Regions from separate parts of the Homo sapiens genome. Here region 2 is linked to region 1. A link means that fine-mapping ties the variant in region 1 to the expression of a gene that starts in the linked region. Tissue or cell type: whole blood. Region 1 holds a variant in brackets; the other region holds the start of a gene. All regions are shown on one strand. Distances are from middle to middle.

Region 1 (8,294 bases):
TCAGGAAAAGCCGCCTCCTTCATCTCCAGGCTTGGGATAAGAGAAGTCACCTAGCCACCTCAGCCTTGCAGCAAGAGAACCCAGCCCCAGTCCAGCCCCCGCCAGGCTCTCTGGGGGCTTGTTGCTGAGAATGGCCACAAGGGGGCGTTGCCGGTCCTCAGCCGGCTGTGGCCTTGCTGCGACTGCAGCGCAGCGAGGTGGACAGCGTCTCGCTCAGGCTCGGGAGCCACCGCCCAGGTCTCTCTCCCTCAGTCTCCTGCTTAGCACAGCTCCTTTCCTCCCAGGACTCTGCACTCCTAGGGCTGACATCTTTCCCGCAACCCTAGGCCTCGTGGCCAGGCTGGGAGAACAGCCTGAGTTTGCAGTATCTATGACGGGGAGCCCACCCGGTTCTTGGGGAGAGGGAGCAGGGCCTGGCTTCTGGGATTAACCAACCAGCCTTCGGCACCAGGGAGGTTCTGGGGACCCACAAGCCCCACTTGGCAAGCTCTGATTCAGGGCCAAAGTTTCCAAGAGGCTCCAGCTGGCCTTTCTGCTCCAGTCCCCTGGGGAAATATTAAATAGATCAGGGTTCAGATCTGTGCTCTGAGGCCTCACCTCTGCTCCTCCGCAGTGTTCTTGAGGCTGGGAGCTGCCTGATGAGCTGGGAGGACAGTCACCCCACCCCCTCCACCACACCCAGGCTGACCCTTTCTGGGGAGTGGCAGCCTCTCTCTGCAGCGAGCTGAGGGCAGGCAGTGACCACAGGGCAGCCCCACGCGGATGGCTAGTTCAGGCCACAGCCTGTCACAGGACAGCTCAGCCCTGCTCAGCCGTGTGCAAAAGTGCAGCCTTTGGCAGCAAACTTGGGCCGGGGAGACGAGCTTAAAGTTCCAGGAGAAAGCAATACCTCCACAGCCACTAATATTTAGCAACAAGATCACGTTAGGAAAGGACTTGCCAAGGTCAAGGGTGGTCCATGCGGAGGACTGTGGGACCAGGAGAGGGTGCCTGGCCTCGAGCCCTGTTTGGAAGGAGTGCTAGTTTGCTATCCTGACTTCTCCACCTCAGGAGAAACACCTCCCTGCCCCATTTCCTTGTGAATGTTAGATTATAGGATCAGAATGATAGGTTATAGGATCAGATAGCAGACTCTCGAACATATTCTGTCTTCTCTCATTTAAAGACTTGGACTTCCGGGCTGGGCTCAGAGGGCTGGCCTCCTGCAGAAGGTGGCCTGCCTGTCTCAGCCTGGAGACGTGGCCCTCTGTTCCCCAACAGGCCTTGACTTTCCTGCCCAGTGAACCTCAAGGTTTACTGAAAATGTTTTCCATTAGTGATCCTGCCCAGACCCTTCATGTGACACCCTGCTCCAAAGAAGTCACTGCTGCTGGGAGCTGGGAGTGGTTGTTATGGCAACAGTTTACACAGCAGAGAGAACCATCTGCAGGCAAATGGGGACGGGAGTGGGGAGGGGCTGAGTCCAGGTGTGGATGACAATTGGAGGAGGCCCTGGGGGATTTCTGGTTGTGACACTAGTAAGATTAGTATTGGCTAACTCTTCTACAGGGCTGGGTACCAGGCACTATTCTAGCAGCTTTATGTATATTAGCCCATTTAATCTTCAGGACAACTCTTTGAGAGAGCCCAGTTATTATCCCCATTTTACAGTTGAGAAAAACGGAAGCCTGGGGAGGTTGAGTAAGCTGTCCAAGGACATATAACAGCAAATGGCAAAGCCAGAATTCAAATCCAGATAGTCTGACTCTAGAGCGCATAGTCCAATATTGTCGCCACTAGTCAGAATGGGGAGAGAGAGAGAGAGAGAGAGAGAGAGAGAGAGAGAGAGAGAGAGAGAGAGAGAGAGAGAATTCACATACCAAAATTCACCCTTTTAAAATGTACAGTTCATTTGGGAGCCGACGCTGGTGGATCACTTGAGGTCAGGAATTCAAGACCAGCCTGACCAACATGATGAAACCCCATCTCTACTAAAAATACAAAATGAGCTTGGCATGGTGGTGCACTCCTGTAACCCCAGCTACCTACTTGGGAGGCTGAGGCAGGAAAATCGCTTGAACCTGGGAGGCAGGGGTTGCAGTGAGCTGAGATCGCACCATTGCACTCCAGCCTGGGCAACAAGAGTGAAACTCCATCTCAAAAATAATAATAAAAAAAACAAATAAAATGTACAGTTCAATTGTTTTTAGTATATTTGCACAGTTGTACAACCATCATCACTATCTAATCCAGACTATTTTTATCATTCCAATAAGAAGCCCTGTGGCCATTAGCAGTCACTCCCTGTTCTCCCCTTGCTCCAACTCCTGGCAACCACCAATCTACTTTCTGTCTCTGTGAGTTTGCCTATTCTAGACATTTCATAGAAATGTAATCATGCAATATGTGGCCTTTTGCATCTGGCTTCTTCCACTTAGCACAACGTTCTCAAGGTTCCTCCATGTTGTAGCAAGCATCACTACTTCATTCCTCTTCAGGGCTGAATGATATTCCATTGTATGGATATACCACATTTAGTTTATCTATTCATTTCATAGGCATTTGGGTCATCTCAACTTTTGGCCTAGTATGAATAATGCTGCTATGAAATTCACGTCCATGCCTTTATATGGATGCATGTTTTCATTTCTTTTGAATGTATGCCTATGAGTACAATACTGGGTCCCATGGTAATTTTATAGTTAACATTTTGAGGAACTGCCAGACTGTTTTCCAAAGTGGCTGCTCCATTTCTCATTCCCATCAGCAGTATATGAGAGTTCCAATTTCTCCATATCTTCACTGACACTTGTCATTGTCTCTTTTTGATAGCCATCCAGTGGGTATGAAGTGGTATCTCACTGTAGGTGTCATCTACATTTCCCTAGTGCCTAATGATATTGAGCATCTTTTAGATTTAAGTTAACTAAAATTAATGAAGTTTCAAATTCAGTTGTTGGGTTGCACTAGCCACATTTCAAGTGTTCAATAGCCACATCATTACACCAGCTCGTAGCTACTGCAGCACAGATATAGAAGTTTCCACCACCTTGGAGCACTCTTAGAGCCACTGGAGTTGGTCTGTGCTAATATTACTGGCTCTTTTTCTTTTTCTTTTTTTATTTTTTTTATTATACTTTAAGTTCTAGGGTACATGTGCACAATGTGCAGGTTTGTTACATAGGTATACATGTGCTATGTTGGTTTGTTGCACCCATTAACTTGTCATTTACATTAGGTATTTCTCCTAATGCTATCCCTCCCCCAGCTCCCCACCCCCACAACAGGCCCCCATGTGTGATGTTCCCCACCCTGTGTCCAAGTGTTCTCATTGTTCAATTCCCACCTATGAGTGAGAACATGCAGTGTTTGGTTTTCTGTCCTTGTGATAGTTTGCTCAGAATGATGGTTTCCAGCTTCATCCATGACCCTGCAAAGGACATGAACTCATCCTTTTTTATGGCTGCATAGTATTCCATGGTGTACAAGTGCCACATTTTCTTTTCTTTCTTTTTTTTTTTTTTTTTTTTTTTGAGACAGAGTCTCACTCTGTCCCCAGGCTGGAGTGCAGTGGCAGGATCTCGGCTCACTACAAGCTCTGCCTCCCGGGTTCACATCATTCTCCTGCCTCAGCCTCCCGAGTAGCTGGGACTACAGGCGCCTGCCACCACGCCTGGCTAATTTTTTGTATTTTTATTAGAGACGGGGTTTCACCATGTTAGCCAGGATGGTCTCGATCTCCTGACCTCGTGATCCACCCGCCTCGGCCTCCCAAAGTGCTGGGATTACAGGCGTGAGCCATTGCGCCCGGCAATGTGCTACATTTTCTTAATCCAGTCTATCATTGATGGACATTTGGGTTGGTTCCAAGTCTTTGCTATTGTGAATAGTGCCACAATAAACATATGTGTGCATGTGTCTTTATAGTAGCATGATTTATAATCCTTTGGGTATATACTTAGTAATGGAATCGCTGGGTCAAATGGTATTTCTCGTTCTAGATCCTTGGAATTGCCACACTATCTTCCACAATGGCTGAACTAGTTTACACTCCCACCAACAGTGTAAAAGCGTTCCTATTTCTCCACATCCTCTCCAGCACCTGTTGTTTCCTGACTTTTTAATGATCGCCATTCTAACTGCCGTGAGATGGTATCTCGTTGTGGTTTTGATTTGCATTTCTCTGATGACCCAGTGATGATGAGCATTTTTTCATGTGTCTGTTGGGTGCATAAATGTCTTCTTTCGAGAAGTGTCTGTTCATATCCTTTGCCCACTTTTGATGGGGTTGTTTGTTTATTCTTGTAAATTTAAATTCTTTGTAGATTCTGGATATTAGCCCTTTGTCAGATGGGTAGATTGCAAAAATTTTCTCCCTTTCTGTAGGTTGCCTGTTCACTCTGATGGTGGTTTCTTTTGCTGTGCAGAAGCTCTTTAGCTTAATTAGATCCCATTTGTCTATTTTGGCTTTTGTTGCCATTGCTTTTGGTGTTTTAGTCATGAAGTTCTTGCCCATGCCTATGTCCTGAATGGTATTGCCTAGGTTTTCTTCTAGGGTTTTTATGGTTTTAGGTCTAACATGTAAGTCTTTAATCCATCTTGAATTAATTTTTGTATAAG[G/T]TGTAAGGAAGGGATCCAGTTTCAGCTTTCTACATATGGCTAGCCAGTTTTCCCAGCATCATTTATTACACAGGGAATCCTTTCCCCATTTCTTGTTTTTGTCACATTTGTCAAAGATCAGGTGGTTGTAGATGTGTGGTGTTATTTTTGAGGCCTCTGTTCTGTTCCATTGGTCTACATCTCTGTTTTGGTACCAGCACCATGCTGTTTTGGTTACTGTAGCCTTGTAGTATGGTTTGAAGTCAGGTAGCATGATGCCTCCAGCTTTGTTCTTTTGGCTTAGGATTGTCTTGGCAATGTGGGCTCTTTTTTGGTTCTATATGAACTTTAAAGTAGTTTTTTCCAATTCTGCGAAGAAAGTCATTGGTAGCTTGGTGGGGATGGCATTGAATCTATAAATTACCTTGGGCAGTATGGCCATTTTCAGGATATTGATTCTTCCTATCCATGAGCATGGAATGTTCTTCCATTTGTTTGTATCCTCTTTTATTTCATTGAGCAGTGGTTTGTAGTTCTCCTTGAAGAGGTCCTTCACATCCCTTGTAAGTTGGATTCCTAGGTATTTTATTCTCTTTGAAGCAATTGTGAATGGGAGTTCACTCATGATTTGGCTCTCTGTTTGTCTGTTATTGGTGTATAGGAATGCTTGTGATTTTTGCACATTGATTTTGTATCCTGAGACTTTGCTGAAGTTGCTTATCAGCTTAAGGAGATTTTGGGCTGAGATGATGGGGTTTTCTAAATATACAATCATGTCATCTGCAAACAGGGGCAATTTGACTTCCTCTTTTCCTAATTGAATACCCTTTATTTATTTCTCTTGCCTGATTGCCCTGGCCAGAACTTCCAACACTATGTTGAATAGGAGCGGTGAGAGAGGGCATCCCTGTCTTGTGCCATCACTGGCTCTTCTTCTATAAAGTGTTTGCCTTTGGCGCACTTTCAAGTTCATTTTACAGAGCGGGCCCGTCTTCAGGTTTCTGGGGCCCTGCCACTGAGGCCCAGAATGAGTTAGACAGAGACTTGCCAGATGATATATATTTGAGTTAGCGGCAGAAGAGAACCAGTAGCAAAGGTAAGGGCAGGCTTTTGTCATTTGACTTCACCCACCTGCCCACTCCCACTCCTGTGCAGCCCTCCACCCCCAGGCCTGTCCCTAAATCCCTGACATCACTTCCTTTCGCAGAACCTACCAGTGGCCAAGTGACAAAAGGCACCTTATCTGAAGATGCCACTGTTGTGATGGGAGTAGTTCTGCCTATCACACTCCTGCCTGCACCAGAACTCAAGGGGTCAGGTCTCCTGGCTACAGACCTTTCCTGAGTTCTCCAAACCAGGCCTTTGCAGTCTTCTATGTAGGATGTGAATCCCACGTGATTCCCTTGGAAGTGGCTGCATTTCAAATGGGAGACACATCAAATGAGTGAACATCACCGCCTCTGAAGCACTGATTATCCACCAGATCATGCCGGGCTGTGCCCTGACCAGCAGCCACTGGCTTCCACTTAGCCACTGTCTTGAGGGTTCTGAGTCCACCCATACAATAGGGGCTGCCCTCAGGGAGCTTGCAGCCAAGAGGTTGGCATGTGCAGCTGTGGTCAGGCATCATCCGTGCATGGGGGCCAGAGCTTCTGTTGGGGACTGACTAGAAAAGTGATAAGGTGGGTGGGTTAGAGGAGTCACAGGGGAGGTCCTGGAAGAGGTGACCACTGATCTGAAACCAAAGGAAGGGAAAGAATGAATCTGACCACAGGCAACAGGGCAAGTCTCAGGTTCAGGAAGGATACAGCCTATGCAAAGGCTGAGCCACAAGAGAGGAAGGACTGGCTCTGGGCATCAGACGACGAGAGGCCACAGGACACGGAGCTAGAGAGTCTTTGTCAAATCCCAGCTTTACCACTGTGACCTTGGGCAAGGTATTCAATGCCCTGTGACCTTGGGCAAGGTATTCAATGTCTGGGCCTCAGTTCTCTCACCTATAAAATGAAATAACAGCTGAGCTGTTGTTTAGATTTCATGTCTTTCTCCTCCTGAAGGGCAGAGACCTGGCATATTCATTCCAAATCCCATTCTGACACCTCAAACACAGTGGGTGCTCCACACATTGTTTTAAAGTGACACCGTAGGAGAAGAGGTGTGGTTTGGGGATGGGAATGGGATGGAATGGGAGACAAAGCAGATATGGCAGGGTGACTGGGCTGCTGGCATAAGGTCTGGCCAGCCTGTGTATGGACCAGTATAGACAGCCCTGCTGCAAGCCCAGAAGAGGCTGAATGTTAAAACTCATCAAAAGTCAGAGCTGGCACAAGCCTCAGAGGTCATTTCACAGATGAGGAGACTGAGGCGCACTGGAATAGCAGTGACTTGCTCAAGACGACACAGCCTGCTGATCTCAGAGCCAGGCTTGAGGATAAAGAGGAAAAGGTTGAGCTTTGAGGAGGATTATGAGAGAGAAAGCTGGGGGCAAGGTATGAGCAAGGTAGGGCTGCCCAGAAGGCGATGCTCCCTCTGCCGTTCACACCTCCCTCTTCCCCTGCCCCACTTCAGCCTGCACAGCATCTGCTCCTCCATCAAAAAGCTGACATCCACCCTGCCTGGCTGCCTCCCTGGAGGGTTCTTATTTCTGGAAAAGCCTGCTGTGTCACTGATCCCTTCACCCCTCTACTGCCCACCACTGGGGACCCTGTGACTCGGCCCATCTGCCACCAACATGCCCCCCCATTTCCAGGATGGTTCCACTGCTCACCAAAAGGACTCGGCTTAGACTAAGGCCCCGGAACTCCCTCCAGGGCTTGGGTATCAATTGAAACAAGAAGGAGCTAGGTTAGCTTTAAGGGAGACTTCCAATTAAGAAGGCAGAGAATTCCTACAGTGAGACTTAATAAGATGTGCTGAAGAGTTTTTGCATTTAAAAAAATTTTTTGTTTAGTGAGCATCAGAAGGTGAGAAAAGCAGGCAATGTTCTGAGGCAAGAAGGGAAGGAAAAGGAAAAAAGACAGTATTTCCCGAGTGTGCGCCAGGCATGGTGCGAAACACGAATATGTATTCTGTCCTTGCAATGCAGCGGCTGAGGTAAGTATGAGTACTCCGATTTTATAGATGTTTGGCTCAGAGAGGTCAGTTAACTTCCTAAGGTCACACGGCTTGTAGGGTAGGGATCTGAATCCCAGTCTTCTCTGAAGTCCGTGCTTTTTCCAAAATGAATGATACATGACCAAAAAGACAACAGAGGCGGACGCCAGGAGGCCCTTCCTGACTCATGCTGGAATCACGCTCCTCACAGCTCACAGAATGAAGCCTGTCCTCCACTGCAGGCAATGAATGAGATACAGAACTGCCAGAAGACAGGGAGTCATGGGCCACCAGCCAGGCCAAGCATTTCTCCACCTCCAAGACATCGGGCTGCCAGCCAGTCCAGGCCTCACTGGCAGTCACTGCTCCTGTCCAATGCTTCCTCGAGGGAGCCCTTTCTCCTCACTGGGCTTTGTCCCAGCTCTGAAACCTGTAAAGCTTCTGGCCTCGGAAGAACCTTCCTAGAGCGTCTGGCAGGCAGGTTGTGTCGCCTGCTTGCCAAGATCCATGGCTGCTCTCGACTGCCTAATCAGATCATTCAGAATCCTCCTCTTCCGCCCGATTCCAATGCAGGAGCCTGGGAACCAGCTGCAGCCAAAAGCAGAGCTTCAGGGCCACTCCCT
Region 2 (6,596 bases), 280 kb before region 1:
GGAATGCAATGGCATGATCTCAGCTCACTGCAACCTCTGTGTCCCAGATTCAAGCGATCCTCCTGCCTCAGGCTCCCAGGTAGCTGGGTTTACAGGTGTGAGCCACCACAACCAGCTAATTTTTGTATTTTTAGTGGAGGTAGGGTTTCACCATGTTGGCCAGGCTGGTCTCAAACTCCTGACCTCAGGTGATCTGCCAGCCCTGGCCTCCCAAAGTGCTGGGATTACAGATGTGAGCCACCACACCCAGCCTGGAAACGAGATTTTTAAAAAGAACAATGTAGGGAGCTTTTTGATCCCTTCTCAAAAAAAAAAAAAAAAAAAAAAAAAAAAAAAAAAAAGAAAGAAATACAAAAGTTAGCAGTAAGAGCTAACACAGCTTACTTACCATGTACCACGCACCATATTAACCACTTATGGAAAGACAACTCATTTAACCTATGTCAAGCACTTAGACTAGTGCCTGGCTCATCTTATTAAATATTAGCCATCATCCCCCCTCCACCAAAATTGCTTACTCATCATCTTTGCTTTTTTGTTGTTGTTGTTAAAACAGGGTCGCACTCTGTTGCTCAGGCTGGAGTGCAGTGGTGTTATCAGGCTGTGAAAGGAAAATCTCTTGGGCCCCCAAAATCACTAAAGAAAACTCAACCTGGGAACCGCTTAGGGCACACCTGCCTCCCATTCTATTCAAAGCCACTACTCTGCTCACTGAGATGGATGCATATCTGATTTGCTTCCTTTGGAAAGGCTCATCAGAAACTCAAAAGAATGTAACCATTTGTGTATCACCTATCTGTGATCCGGAAGCCGCTTCAAGTCTTCCTGCCTTTGCTGCAAGTTGTCCCACCTTTTCAGACCCAACCAATGTACTTCTTACATATACTGACTGATGTATCATGTCTCCCTAATGTATAAAACCAAGCTGTGGGCCGGGCGCAGTGGCTCACGCCTGTAATCCCAGCACTTTGGGAGGCCGCCGAGGCAGGCGGATCACGAGGTCAGGAGTTCGAGACCAGCCTGACCAAAATGGTGAAATTTTGTCTCTACTAAACAATACAAAAATTAGCCGGGTGTGGTGGCGCACGCCTGTAGTCCCAGCTACTAGGGAGGGTGAGGTACGAGAATCGCTCGAACCCACGACGCAGAGGTTGCAGTGAGCCGAGATCTTGCCACTGCACTCCAGCCTGGACGAGAGTGAGACTCTGCCTCAAATAAATAAATAAAAGATTAAACTGTAAGCAAGCAGTTTACTATGAAACTTGCAACCAACTCTACCTGAGAGATAACTGGCAGCCACAGCCTAAGGACTCTCCAGGAAGGATTTTCTGACTCTTACAGACATAAGCCACATAACTCCATCCTCTTATTTCCAATATTTGCCCCGTCCCGAAAAAAAATTAAAGAGTTAACCAACAGTGAGAAGGCCAAATTATTATAATGCTTATAGCACCCTAATTCCAGTTCTCACTTTTACTCAAATTCTTTCGTTAATCAAATCCAGGACTTCACAGGAGGAAACAAAAACAAAGATAAGAGCTTTAACCGTGGAACTAGAAGGCAACACAGAACAAAGAGCTAGATCAACATCTGGCTAATTCTAGAGCCACCATAAAGCAGAGATAAGGTGGCTGATAATCAGGTACCTCGGCCCAAAAGTCCAAGAGGGCACTAAGTGAAGTGCATGAACAACAGGTCATCTAGAAAGCCACGGAAAATGTTAGAAACGGCAGTGTGCGATGAGCGGGAATGCGGCGCAATCTGGACAAGCCTCCAGGGCCAGGGAGGAGACGCGGAAGGACGGAAAGGGTGAAGGATGCACCGCCCAGTGGCTGGAGGAAGTCCAGAAGGAAACCAGGCAGCCCGGGAGGAAAAGAGGAAGCAAGGGGAGGAGGCCTAGAGGCGGCGCGCGGGGAGTAGGCCCCTCTAGGGACGCTCTGGAAGGGTCCTCCCTGTCCCTCCTCCCGGGTGGGGTAGGTGAGGGTGCAGGGCGGCTGGGGGCCGGAAGGGCAGGCAGGCAGCGGCGGGCGCAGTCTGGGGCGCACTCACCCCGGGTCCCTCCCCGACGCGGTAGGTGAGCAGCACCTGGAGGCGCTCGGCGGCGCGGCAGGGCTGCGGGAAGGACACGCACAGGGCCTGGCCATAGTGCGAGAAGGGCTGCGTGTAGAAGCTCACGGGCTCCGCAGGCGGCTCCTCCGAGCCGGGCCGCTCCCGCCGCAGCGCCGCCGCCGTCACCTCCAGGCACGGGTGCGAGTCCAGCCGCAGCTCGGCGGCGCCCTCGGGCTCCAGGCAGCGCAGGTCCAGGACCGCGGTGCCGCTCAGCCCCCGGCTCCCTGCGCCGGGCCCTGGAGGCCCGAACTCAGCCCGCAGGTCCAGGTGCAAGTGCAGCAGCTCAAAGGCCCGGAAGTTGGAGGCCGAGGCCACGTCCACAGCCTGCGCGGAGTGCAGCGGCCGCCGGGCCGCGCCGCTGCCGGGGGAATGCTCGCCGCTCGCCATGGCCGCAGAGCCGTTGCTCACCGGCCGGGCCGCGAACCCGAGGGGAGCCCCGCCCCGAGCGCCGCGGGCCCGCCCCCGCCGCGCGGGCCCCGCCCCCGAAATCTGCTCCCGACCGCATCCCCTCCCTGCGCTTTACCGCCCACTCTTCTAGCTGCACCCGTGCCTCGGGACTTAGGACAAAAGAGGCCGGTGGGATCGTGTGGCCCACGTTTGCCCACCCATATCCTACTGAGGTGTTCCAGTCGTCCCGGTGGGGCACCCTTCTCTGCTGACCCTTCCTGCTGCCTCATCTAGGCAGTGGCGTGGACTGAGCCCTGGCTGGGAAGGTCTGAGTTCCAGATCTCACACCCTGCGATAGGCCAGTTGTTAGAACTGTGTGTCACCTTGGGCAAGTCGCACAAGAAACATGAATCTTCCCGAGCCTTTTTCTGCACCAGTATAATAGAGTCATAATATCTGTGTATCTCACGAAGTAATGTGAGAACTCTACCAGGTAACCTGTCTAACACACTCAGCAAACAGTGAAACCCTGCACAACTTCACGGAATTCACACTGGATCGAGCCTCGTCCCCCAGCAACTCCAGGCACGCCTATCTTTCTATTGTTGGGTTAAGGGACAGGAATCAGCACCGCGCAATTTAAGGCCTGGCTGTCCATCGCATGTCACTTCTATTTCCCTTACTGTATTGTACCGCTTATTGAGCTAGGGTATTCTCCGCTGAATACTTTGTTTCTCTTCTGTACCAGTGGGTTGCAATGGGCCTTCTATGAATAGGAGCTAATCAATGATGATGTTTTTACCGTTCAGCTAGGAAATGAGATTTTTAAAAAGAACAATGTAGGGAGTTTTTCATTAAGGGAAATAGTATTCCGTTCTGTGCTTCCTAGTTTTGTAGAGTTGAAATTATTTTATTTCATGAAATAATGCTTATGGTAGATAATGACTTTAATATTCCATGTAAGTTCAATGTCAGGGTTTTTTGTTTAACTCCAGAAACCTTAGAAACCTGCTTTTCTGTAGCATTGAGAACAGCGCTTGGTACATATTAGACGTTGAATACTCCTATCTTGAAATTATTCAGTCTTCGATGCAATGCACTTTTGCTGAGTATCTGCTAGACACCAGTTGTTAAGCTAAGTGCCTGGGGTACAGTTTGAATAAGTCCGGCACAATTCCTCTTCCTATGGTGTTCATAGCCTAACTCACATTTTAGCAGACGCACAAGAAAACAGGTCACGACACTTCCACGTGCTGCGCTTGATACGGGAAGAAAAGGATGCTGGGGAGCACAACGAAGAGATGCCTAGCCTGATCCTTCTAGTTAAATATTGACAGAGGAAGAGGATGTCATCCTTAGCTAAAGGGTAAAAGATTTTAGGCTGGGTGTGGTGGCTCACGCCTGTAATCCCAACACTTTGGGAAGCTGAGGCAGGAGGATCGCTTGAGCCCAGGAGTTCAAGATGAGGCTACGCAACAGAGGGAGACCCCCTCTCTACAAAAACATTTTAAAAAATTAGCTGGGTGTGGTGATGCACACCTGTGGTCCTGGCTACTCAGAGGATGAGGTAGGGGTATTGCTTGGGCCCAGGAGGTCAAGGCTGCAGTGAACCATGATCATACCACTGCACTCCAGCTGGGGCAACAGAGAAAGACCCTGTCTCAAAAAAAAAAAAAAAAAAGATTTTAGGAATTATATTATTTCCCCTTATAGCCTTACTTCTTCCTGGGAATACCAGGAACCTCATTTCCACTTCCGCCTCCCTGCATGGCTCCCACACTGTCTAGTTTGCCTCAGAACTGGCCTGTAGATGGCCTGTAATAACTTACAGTGGAGAGATTCAGGAATTCAGAGAATTCAGGATTGTAGAAAGGGGACACTGTGGGCACAGCCCACCTCTCCCCCAGTTCATTTTCATTATTTATTATTTATTTGTGAATGCTTAGAATGCAACATATGTTGGACATTTCAAAATAATGGCCACAAATTTTCCATTCCTGATTCTATAGATTTAAAAGTTACAGGGCCGAGTGCAGTGGCTTATGCCTGTAATCCCAGCACTTTGGGAGGCTGAGGCTGGTGAATCATTTGAACTCAGGAGTTCAAGATCAGCCTGGCCAACATTATGAAACACCATCTCTACTAAAAATACAAAAAATTAGCCGGGCAGTAGTGGCACACACCTGTAATCTCAGCTACTCGGGAGGCTGAGGCAGGAGAATTGCTTGAGCCTAGGAGGCAGAGGTTGGAGTGAGCCAACATTGCGCCACTGCACTCCAGCCTGCATGACAGAGTGAGACCCTGTCTCAAAAAAAAAAAAAAAAAACAGTAAAAAGTTACAATAAATTATTAGCAAAAATAAAAATAAAGCTACCTATAGACATGTTTTAGTTAAATTGAAGAAAACCAAGACATAAAGATCTTACAGCAGTGGAAGAAAAGAGACAGATTATCTACAAAAGAATGGCAATTAGAAATTGGACCAAGGTGCCAGGTATGTTGGCTCACACCTATAATCCCAGCACTTTGGGAGGCCAAGGCGGGCGGATCACCTGAGGTTGGGAGTTCGAGACCAGCCTGACCAACATGGAGAAACCCTGTCTCTACTGAAAATACAAAATTAGCCAGGCATGGTGGCGCATGCCTTTAATCCCAGGTACTCCGGAAGCTGAGGCAGGAGAATCACTTGAACCTGGGAGGCGGAGGTTGTGGTGAGCCGAGATCACGCCATTGCACTCCAGCTTCGGCAACAAGAGCAAAACTCCGTCTCAAAATAAGAAATTGGACCAAGGGCAGACCTCTCATTAGCAACATACAAGCTGGAGACATTATCTTCAAAATACTGAGAAAAAAAAGCCAACTGTCAAATTGGAATTGTATACCCAACTAAACTATTATTTGGTCATGTGCAGTGGCTCAAGCCTATAATCCCAGCACTTTAGGAGGCTGAGGCAGGAAGATCTCTTTAGCCAAGGAGTTCCAGACCAGCCTGGGCAACACAGGGAGACCCTGTCTTTATAAAAATAAATAAAATTAAAAATGAACTACTGTTAAAAAGTAAGGGAAAACAGATTTTTAGATAAAAATTGAGAGTATTTACCATCCATAGACTCCTAACGAAGAAATTCTAAAGGAATTCTTTTTTTTTTTTTTTTTGAGATGAAGTCTCGCTCTTGTCCCCCAGGCTGGAGTGCAATGGTGCGATCTCAGCTCACTGCAACCCCCGCCTCCCGGGTTCAAGCAATTCTCCTGCCCCAGCCTCCTGAGTAGCTGGGATTACAGGCGCCTGCCACCATGCCTGGCTAATTTTTGTATTTTAAGTAGAGACGGGGTTTCACCATGTTGGCCAGGCTGGTCTCGAATTCCTGACCTCAGGTGATCCGCCTGCCTCGGCCTCCCAAAGTGCTGGGATTACAGGCGTGAGCCACTGTGCCAGGCCAGGAATTATTTCAAGAAGGAAAGGAATCACTGAAGGAAAGAATGAGATGCAAAAAGGAACAGTGAGCAAAAAAAGTAGATAAATTTAAACAACTGTATAAAACAACACTAATAATATACTAATAATGTTTATGTGAGGGAATCAGGATAAAACTAAAATAACAGACTAAAAGTACATAAGAGAGAGGGGTAACTGAAGTTAAAGCATTTTTTTTTTTAGGTGGACAGAAAGTAGAATTTATTGGTGAGTATTAAGAGGGGGCAGCACAGTGGAAGCCCTCATGAGTGCAGGACCCGCCACTTGTCCAGAGGGCCATGATTGGGAATGTACTTGACCCATCTGGGATGAGCCGCTTCTCAGCCACCATGTCTTCAAATTAATTGGCATTGAACTTGGTGAAGCCCCATTTCTTTGAGATGTGGATCTTCTGGCGGCCAGAAAACTTGAACTTGGCCCTGCGCAGGGCCTCAATCACATGCTCCTTGTTCTGCAGCTTGGTGTGGATGGACATAACTTGGCCAATGTGAACCCTGGCCACAGTGCCCTGGGGCTTTCCAAAGGCACCTCGCATGCCAGTTTGGAGCCTACATTGGGGTAGTGTAAGGTCAGAAACATGAACATCCATCTGAAAGGACTGTCTCCAAGGTCCCTTAGAGCAACC

The links. PIP is the estimated chance that this variant, and not a neighbour inherited with it, causes the effect.
Region 2: it holds the start of RNPEP, and the variant in region 1 is fine-mapped to the expression of RNPEP in whole blood (INTERVAL, PIP above 0.99).

Annotation. Positions count from the first base shown.
Region 1 is chr1:201,696,228-201,704,521 of GRCh38, reverse strand. The region is part of intron 5 of NAV1 (neuron navigator 1); the gene reads right to left. All of the region lies in intron 2 of IPO9-AS1 (IPO9 antisense RNA 1), which reads left to right. Among named protein-coding and RNA genes, the nearest start is that of MIR5191, 19 kb to the left of the region's middle. RefSeq lists an enhancer at 588-1,160. The variant G/T (reference allele first, on the strand shown) is at 4,600.
Region 2 is chr1:201,978,567-201,985,162 of GRCh38, reverse strand. RNPEP (arginyl aminopeptidase) reads right to left here and starts at 2,515. Exons shown (of 11, transcript NM_020216.4): 1 at 2,050-2,515. The coding sequence starts at 2,496. It overlaps SNORA70H (small nucleolar RNA, H/ACA box 70H), which reads right to left; the gene lies at 6,568-6,596. It also overlaps the pseudogene RPL10P4. RefSeq lists a silencer at 1,930-2,609 and an enhancer at 2,820-2,879.